Linked DNA regions of Homo sapiens: regions 1 and 3 are each linked to region 2. Evidence: fine-mapped QTL for protein levels in blood plasma. A gene starts in region 2. Each other region holds a variant in brackets. All regions are shown on one strand. Distances are from middle to middle.

Region 1 (2,753 bases), 3.3 Mb before region 2:
CCCTTCTTCTCACTGGGGACAAGGGCCCAACCCCGGGCAGCTGGGGGTGGAGATAGCTGTTCTGGGCTGACTGATGGGGACGTCTGGAGGGTCCTGGGGCTGAGAGCTGGAATCTGAGGGATGGGGATGTCTTGGGATCCAGCCTCTGATTCCATTCTAGGCACCCTCCCCAAACCCACCCTCTGGGCTGAGCCAGCCTCTGTGATAGCTCGGGGGAAGCCCGTGACCCTCTGGTGTCAGGGGCCCCTGGAGACTGAGGAGTACCGTCTGGATAAGGAGGGACTCCCATGGGCCCGGAAGAGACAGAACCCACTGGAGCCTGGAGCCAAGGCCAAGTTCCACATTCCATCCACGGTGTATGACAGTGCAGGGCGATACCGCTGCTACTATGAGACCCCTGCAGGCTGGTCAGAGCCCAGTGACCCCCTGGAGCTGGTGGCGACAGGTGAGAGGACACTCAGGGGTCCCAGCCCCAGGCTCTGCCCTCAGGAAGAGGGTCGGCTCTTAGGGACGTCTACCTCTCACAGCCCAGCCCTGGGGATGATGTGGGAGGTCGGAGCCCCACTTAAGACGTGCCTCCTTCTCTGCTAGGATTCTATGCAGAACCCACTCTTTTAGCCCTGCCGAGTCCTGTGGTGGCCTCAGGAGGAAATGTGACCCTCCAGTGTGATACACTGGACGGACTTCTCACGTTTGTTCTTGTTGAGGAAGAACAGAAGCTCCCCAGGACCCTGTACTCACAGAAGCTCCCCAAAGGGCCATCCCAGGCCCTGTTCCCTGTGGGTCCCGTGACCCCCAGCTGCAGGTGGAGGTTCAGATGCTATTACTATTACAGGAAAAACCCTCAGGTGTGGTCGAACCCCAGTGACCTCCTGGAGATTCTGGTCCCAGGTGAAAAAGCCACCACACTTCTTTATATAATTTTGGGGAACCAGATAGGTTGTTGGGAGTTTGGTTGATGACTGATCATGGCAAGGACCCCAGAAGGATGTGTTGATGGATGGGCTGAAGGCGTGAGGAAGACCCCACGGGGAGGCTCAGATGGGGAAACAGGAGCCTGAGTCACCCTCACCTGGAAGGGGTCGACTCAGGAAGGCAATGGGTGTATTTGCTGCAATTTCCTGTCCCTC[A/G]ATGAGGAGAGGACAGACCAGACAGACAGTGGCCAGGAGTCAGAGAGACACTATCGGTCTGGAACTACTCCAAGACAGACCCAGGTGAGAAGGAGGCCCCGGGATCCGAGACACAGAGCGTGAGAGACAGTGAGACCTGCAGGGCCAGGACGCCAGGACGGGAGAAGGAAGGGGCGGGGGAGGAACCAGCCTTCCAAGTCCCAATTCCTCTTTCCCTCCAGGCGTGTCTAGGAAGCCCTCCCTCCTGATCCCGCAGGGCTCTGTCGTGGCCCGCGGAGGCAGCCTGACCCTGCAGTGTCGCTCTGATGTCGGCTATGACATATTCGTTCTGTACAAGGAGGGGGAACATGACCTCGTCCAGGGCTCTGGCCAGCAGCCCCAGGCTGGGCTCTCCCAGGCCAACTTCACCCTGGGCCCTGTGAGCCGCTCCCACGGGGGCCAGTACAGATGCTACGGTGCACACAACCTCTCCCCTAGGTGGTCGGCCCCCAGCGACCCCCTGGACATCCTGATCGCAGGTGAGGAGCCCAGCGGGTTCAGTCAGGGACCCAGGCTCTGCACAGGTCCTGCCGGGGGAATCCAATTAGTGATGGCCGGGATGAGGCGGGGGGGTGGTCCCAAGGGAGGGAGAGACAGACAGAGACAGGGGATGGGTGGGGAGGGGAAGACTCAGAGAAAACAGAGACAGAGGCTCCTAGAGAGGCCTGGGGAGGTCTCAGCTCAGAGCAAGGTGGGGCAGCCCCTCACCCATCCTTCTTCTCTCCAGGACTGATCCCTGACATACCCGCCCTCTCGGTGCAGCCGGGCCCCAAGGTGGCCTCAGGAGAGAACGTGACCCTGCTGTGTCAGTCATGGCATCAGATAGACACTTTCTTTTTGACCAAGGAGGGGGCAGCCCATCCCCCGCTGTGTCTAAAGTCAAAGTACCAGTCTTATAGACACCAGGCTGAATTCTCCATGAGTCCTGTGACCTCAGCCCAGGGTGGAACCTACCGATGCTACAGCGCAATCAGGTCCTACCCCTACCTGCTGTCCAGCCCTAGTTACCCCCAGGAGCTCGTGGTCTCAGGTGAGGGCCCTGACCCTGTCCTGTCCAAGCTCAAAGGCTCAGCTCAGGCCCTGCCCCCAGGAGAGCTCTGGGCTGGGATGGAGTCGCGGTGCGGGGGGGAGGGTTTGAGGGGGGCTCAGCCAGAGGGAGACTCACCCCTCAGAGGGGAGGAGGACAACGGGGGCTCCCCAGGCATGCCCACACTTGGCCCCATCTCCTGGGATGCAAATGGTGAAAGGTGAGCAGAAGAAAGTTTCCAGAGAAGCCACGGGCAGGTGGAGGGACGGGTTTCCTCACTCAGCACCAAAGCGCCTCGCTCCCTTTCTGTGCTTATTCCCAGGACCCTCTGGGGATCCCAGCCTCTCACCTACAGGCTCCACCCCCACACCTGGTGAGTCACTGAGGCCTCTGGGCTCGGAGGGAGCGTGGTCTCCCCCCAGGCAGCCCTGAGTCTCCCCGAGGATCCTATTCCCCTCAAAGACTCAAGCGGGAGCTTCCCTCCAGGGAGCTGGGCAGAGCCAGAGGAGGGGCCACAGGCTCCCCGGGGCTCTGAGGCTGGGCCGGTGAGGGGGCGG
Region 2 (2,742 bases):
TTTGTGGTAAGGACACTTAAAAAATCTTCTGACTTAAAAAAAAAAGTATGGTGATTGGAAAATGTAAATGTGCATGCGTGCTTGGCATCACATTTCATTGGCCAGGACTTCCCTGGATGCTAAAGGTCCTCAAATGCCAGGCTGGGGGGCTGGGACTTGGTCCCAAGGGAGATGGGGACCCAGGGCACGTCTGTGAGAGGAGGGGCAAGGTCAGCACAAGGCACAGGAAGGTCTCTCTGGGGCAAGGGATACAGAGAACAGAGGGATCCTGGTCCAGGTGGGAGAGGTGCAGCTCTGAGTTGGGGTTGAGGGTGTGGGTACAGAGAGGAAGGGACCCCCCAGAGAGAGGAGGCAGAGGGATAGGGCCTGGTCACTGGGTTGTGCAACATCAGACTTGCTGTCTGTGAAGATAGCACGTCCTGAGAAGAAGGTGCTGAGGTCAGTGGGGACCAAATGTGAGAGGGAGCACCCGGAGAGTATACTGAATACCGAAGTAGTCTTCATCCCTGGAGTGATGGGGGGTGCACAATGCAAGATGACAATTAGATTCAATGCAAGACAAAGAAAAGGGTTGGCTGGGAACAGTGGCTCATGCCTATGGTCCCAGCTCCTGGGAAGACTGAGGCGGGAGGGTCGCTTGAGCCCAGGAGGGTTGAGGCTGCCACGAGCAAGGATCGTGCCACTGCACTCCAGCCTAGGCGACAGAACAAGACCTTGTCTCAAAAGAAAAAAGAACTTTTTTTTTTAAGTTACCTGTAGTGCCCAGCCCAAGCAGGTGCTGAGCCAGACTTCATTCCTATCATTGTCCTTATTACGCAGTGACTTCCCCCTCCTCATTTCTCTCCACTCTGCCACGCACACACCCTCACCCTCCAGCCCATACCAACCACCCCAACCACTGCCTGTGGTTTCCCATGTGCACCCAGGCCAGGCATTTTCACGGCCTTTCCTCCTGACCTACGCCTGGCTCAGCTTTCTAGGCCCAAGTTCAAAGACACCTCCCTAAATCTTCCCAGATCCCTCTGCTACTGCCCAGCACCACCATCTTATCACAGCCCCACGTCGTTCCCAAGTGCTCTCCGATTTCTGCTTAACTCCATGCCTCTCGCTGTGTGTCCGCATCTCATCAATAAGTCCTCAAGTCCTCTTCCATCCTGCTAGCTTCCTCATCGCTCGGGAATCATCCCCGCTACTTCCTGGGGAAACTGACTCCCTTCTGGGCACACACAGTGCTACCCCCGGGGAAATCTAAGAAGAGACCCAGGAGAAGATAAGCACGGAGAGTCAGAGAATCAAGGGGAAAGAAAGGGAGAGAGGCCGGGCACAGTGGCTCACACCTGTAATCCAGCACTTTGGGAGGCCAAGGTGGGTGGATCACCTGAGGTCAGGAGTTTGAGACCAGCCTGGCCAACATGGTGAAACCTCTTCCCTACTAAAAATACAAAAAACATTTAGCCGGGCGTGGTGGTGGGTGCCTGTAATCCCAGCTACTTGGGAAGCTGAGGCAGGAGAACTGCTTGAACTCAGGAGGCGGAGGTTGCAGTGAACTGAGATCACACCACTGCACTCCAGCCTGAGTGACAGAGCAAGACTCCGTCAAAAAAAAAGAAAGAAAGAAAGAAAAGAAGGAAGGAAAGAAAGAAGGAAGGAAGGAAGGGAGGAAGGGAGAGAGGAAGGGAGAGAGGAAGGGAGAGAGAGAAAAAAAGAGGGAGAGAGACACAAATACAGAGACTGAGATGGGAGAGAGAGAGAGATGGAAGCTCCCTCCCCTCCATGGCCAGGGAGACAGATGGAGCAAGAGACCTCAGGGGTGGGCAGACTTGGAGGAGAAGGACCAGGAGGATGTGGAGTGCCGAAATCTCCAGTCAGGGCCAGGTGGGCAGTCAGAGACTGCAAAGGAGGACTGTCAGACAGGGACAAAAGGAAGCCATTGATGTAACCGCCCTCCCGCCTGCCCGCCGGAAGAGAGGTTGAGGCCGGAGCTGCTGGGAGCATGGCACTGGGGTGCTGGGGGCGGACAAAGCCCGATTGTTCCTGGGCCCTTTCCCCATCGCGCCTGGGCCTGCTCCCCAGCCCGGGGCAGGGGCGGGGGCCAGTGTGGTGACACACGCTGTAGCTGTCTCCCCGGCTGGCTGGCTCGCTCTCTCCTGGGGACACAGAGGTCGGCAGGCAGCACACAGAGGGACCTACGGGCAGGTGTGTGAGTCACCCCAACCGCACTGAACCTGGGCAGGCTGCTTCCCAGTGCCGGAGGGCTCTAGAGCCCGGAGTGAGGGCCTGCAGGTCCCTGGGTGGCACAGAGAGTGCTGGGGGTGCAGGGAGGCCTGGGGCACCATCTGCTTGCCCCAGAGGCCGGAATTTGTCTTCAGACACTTTCTTTCTCCAAAACCCGGAGGTCTAAGGACTGAGCCGACTAGAACTTCCTCTGCCTCAGATTCAGGCCCCAGCCCCTCCTCCCTCAGACCCAGGAGTTTAGGTCCTAGCCCCTCCTCCCTCAGACCCAGGAGTCCAAGTTCCCACCTCCTCCCTCAGACTCAGGAGTCCAGGCCCCCAGCCCCTCCTCCCTCAGACCCAGGAGTCCAAGTTCTCACCTCCTCCCTCAGACCCAGGAGTCCAGGCCCCAAGCCCCTCCTCCCTCAGACGCAAGGGTCCAGGCCCCCAGCCCCTCCTCCCTCAGACTCAGGAGTCCAGGCCCCCAAGCCCCTCCTCCCTCAGACCCAGGAGTCCAGGCCCTCACTGCAC
Region 3 (2,753 bases), 3.3 Mb before region 2:
CTGCTCCAGAAATTCCCAGGTGAAAAATCGATCGAGAAAGAAGAGAATAAATGTGAGCATGTGTGGAAGTGCTTGATTCTTCTGATTTTACTTTAAACTTACGACGTATTTAAAGCCTCAGTGCCAGTGGGCCTCCAGGTTTCCTTCTTTCCGCTCGAGTTGTGTGTGCAGGGCAGCTGGTTCGAATTCTCCCAGGCCTGACCCTCTGTCCATCTCTGTCCAGCCCATTTCTACCGTCCTGCAGGGGCTGCGGGGCCAGAGCCCAAGGACCAGGGCCTGCAGAAGAGGTAATTCTGCATGAAGACCCAAGACTCCCATCCACCCGCACAGCCCCCTCACTGCCCCTCACACTCCCGTGTCCTCCCCCAGGGCCAGCCCAGTTGCTGACATCCAGGAGGAAATTCTCAGTGAGTGACTAGAAGCGGAGGGCACCTGGGGTGGGCAAGGGAGCACCAAAGTTTCTGTAGCAATGGGGGCAGGAGCACAGGCTGGGGGGGGTCTGGGGCCAAGGGGGAGGCGGTCTGAACCCACACTGTGGGACCTCAGGGACATCACAGTCCCTCCCTGGATCTCAGCCACCCTAGTGGGAACAGGGCAAGGGCTGGCAGGACGGAGAAGTCTCAGAGAACCTTCCCAGGAGATGAACCCCTTGCTCTGGCCCAGCAGATGCTGCCGTGAAGGACACACAGCCCAAGGACGGGGTGGAGATGGATGCTCCGGTGAGGCCCCGCCCCTGTCCCGGGCACCAAAGGCCTCCTGGTGCCAGATCTAATCCAGCAGGACTTCTCTGTCCTCCTTCCCCCGGCTCTCAGCATCGTCACGGTGGACCCCTCCTTGTCCAGCACGCTGCCTCCCGCCTGCTGCGACCTCACTCTCTTCTGCTGTCCTGGGACCTCGTGGGCCTCCTCCCGGGTCCCCTTCCTGCTCCTCATCCTCTGTTTGGCCGTCTGGTTGTTAGAGCTCTCCCCAGGCCTCAGGAGGATGAGGAATAAATGAACCGACCCGGTCCCCCAGGCTCCCCTTCATTCATTCAACCAGCGAGTGTTCCCAGGGAGCTCACTGTGGATGGGGCTCCCCATGGGAGCTGCAGACACAGCAGGGAGCAAAGCCGCCCCCGCCTCCTGAGCTCACCTCATGGTGGGAGACAAAATGCAAATAAATGCATCGTGTCCAGGAGTGCAACGTGCTGTAAGGAACATAAACCAGGGAAAGGGCAGAGAGTGTGGGGCAGTGGGGCCAGTCTGAATGGAAGGGGAGGGCTGTCTGCTCAGCTGTCATCTGAGAAGCCTGGACAGAGTGGGGCACACGATCCTCTGATGGACGAGCCCCTGCAGGCAGAGGAAACAGCCGTGCAAAGGCCCCGAGGCAGCAGCGAGCTCTTGCGGGAAGGCCCGTGAGGCTGCAGCCAAATGGGCAAGGTCAGAGTGAGGAGCAGAGGCCAGAACCACAGGGAGGGAGCGGCCAGACCCTCCACGGCCTTAGGGCGTCCCTGAGATTCCATC[A/G]GGAAAGGGATGTAATCGGATCACCCCGGGAACAGTGAGGAAAATTGACTCCAGGAGGTCAGGGGGACTCAAGGACACCCCCCACCACTGTCTCTCTCCAGCAGAGCCCACACGATGAAGACCCCCAGGCAGTGACGTATGCCCCGGTGAAACACTCCAGACCTAGGAGAGAAATGGCCTCTCCTCCTTCCCCACTGTCTGGGGAATTCCTGGACACAAAGGACAGACAGGCAGAAGAGGACAGACAGATGGACACTGAGAGAGTCCTTTCCTCTCCAGGCCCCCAGGCCTCCCCCACCCCCACCACGTTCCTTCCCTCTCACTCTCCCCCGCTGCAGGCTGCTGCATCTGAAGCCCCCCAGGATGTGACCTACGCCCAGCTGCACAGCTTGACCCTCAGACGGGAGGCAACTGAGCCTCCTCCATCCCAGGAAAGGGAACCTCCAGCTGAACCCAGCATCTACGCCCCCCTGGCCATCCACTAGCCCACGGGGGACCCAGATCTCATACTCAACAGAAGGAGACTCAGAGACTCCAGAAGGCACAGGAGCTGCCCCCAGTGGACACCAATGAACCCCAGCCAGCCTGGACCCCTAACAAAGACCACCAGGACATCCTGGGAACTCTGGGACTCACTAGATTCTGCAGTCAAAGATGACTAATATCCTTGCATTTTTGAAATGAAGCCACAGACTTCTCAATAAATCAATGAGCTGAGAAAACTGAAACAGAAATTAGAGCATGGTATAAATTTGGAATGATAATGTAAATATTACACATTAAATGATGAAATCGGAAAACTACAAATGAGCGAATGAATTAGAAAAGAATAAAACCTACGTAATTAATGACCTTGGCAATGACAGAAAGAATTTAGAAAAAGAACAACAAATTATTCCAAATGAAGGTGTGAGGAAGGGGACAAAAATAACAAGAGGAGTTACTAATGAGGGCTACGTGAAAACTCGATGAAGCCAAAAAAGCTCATTCTTGAGAATGTGAATTACATTCACAAATCCTAGCCACAATAAGCAAGGAAAAAAGCGGGGTTCAGGCACACATTTCCATATGGGGGTGAAACAGCAGACACCACCACAAATCTGACACATATTGCCTTTATTTTTTTCACTTTTAAGTTCAGGGATACATGTGCAGGTTTGTTAGACAGATAAACTTGTGTCAAGGGGATTTGTCTTGGTTTTTGTGTGAGGGTTTTTGTTTTGTTTTGTTTTGTTTTTTGAGACGGAGTCT

Direction of the effects. Positions count from the first base shown, and alleles are read on the strand shown. Strength reflects both the effect of a copy and how common the allele is.
In carriers of allele A in region 1, the plasma level of the protein whose gene starts at base 2,095 in region 2 tends to be higher than with G alone (strong association).
In carriers of allele G in region 3, the plasma level of the protein whose gene starts at base 2,095 in region 2 tends to be lower than with A alone (strong association).

The links. PIP is the posterior inclusion probability: the model's chance that the variant is causal. Protein levels are from antibody-based Olink assays in UK Biobank. Linkage for the fine-mapping came from a reference panel and not from the study's own genotypes, which makes the PIPs less certain.
Region 1: its variant is fine-mapped to the plasma level of the KLK6 protein (UK Biobank, PIP above 0.99).
Region 3: its variant is fine-mapped to the plasma level of the KLK6 protein (UK Biobank, PIP above 0.99).

The regions. Positions count from the first base shown.
Region 1 is chr19:54,254,181-54,256,933 of GRCh38, reverse strand. It overlaps LILRB5 (leukocyte immunoglobulin like receptor B5), which reads left to right. Exons shown (of 13, transcript NM_001081442.3): 3 at 161-445; 4 at 592-891; 5 at 1,352-1,648; 6 at 1,897-2,199; 7 at 2,519-2,569. Among named protein-coding and RNA genes, the nearest start is that of LILRB5, 1.7 kb to the left of the region's middle. The variant A/G (reference allele first, on the strand shown) is at 1,131.
Region 2 is chr19:50,968,944-50,971,685 of GRCh38, reverse strand. KLK6 (kallikrein related peptidase 6) reads left to right here and starts at 2,095. Exons shown (of 7, transcript NM_002774.4): 1 at 2,095-2,196. All of the region lies in intron 4 of LOC105372442 (a long non-coding RNA gene), which reads right to left.
Region 3 is chr19:54,250,020-54,252,772 of GRCh38, reverse strand. LILRB5 (leukocyte immunoglobulin like receptor B5) reads left to right here. Exons shown (of 13, transcript NM_001081442.3): 10 at 224-287; 11 at 370-407; 12 at 667-719; 13 at 1,841-2,753. The coding sequence ends at 1,987. Among named protein-coding and RNA genes, the nearest start is that of LILRB5, 5.9 kb to the left of the region's middle. RefSeq lists an enhancer at 662-1,279. The variant A/G (reference allele first, on the strand shown) is at 1,503.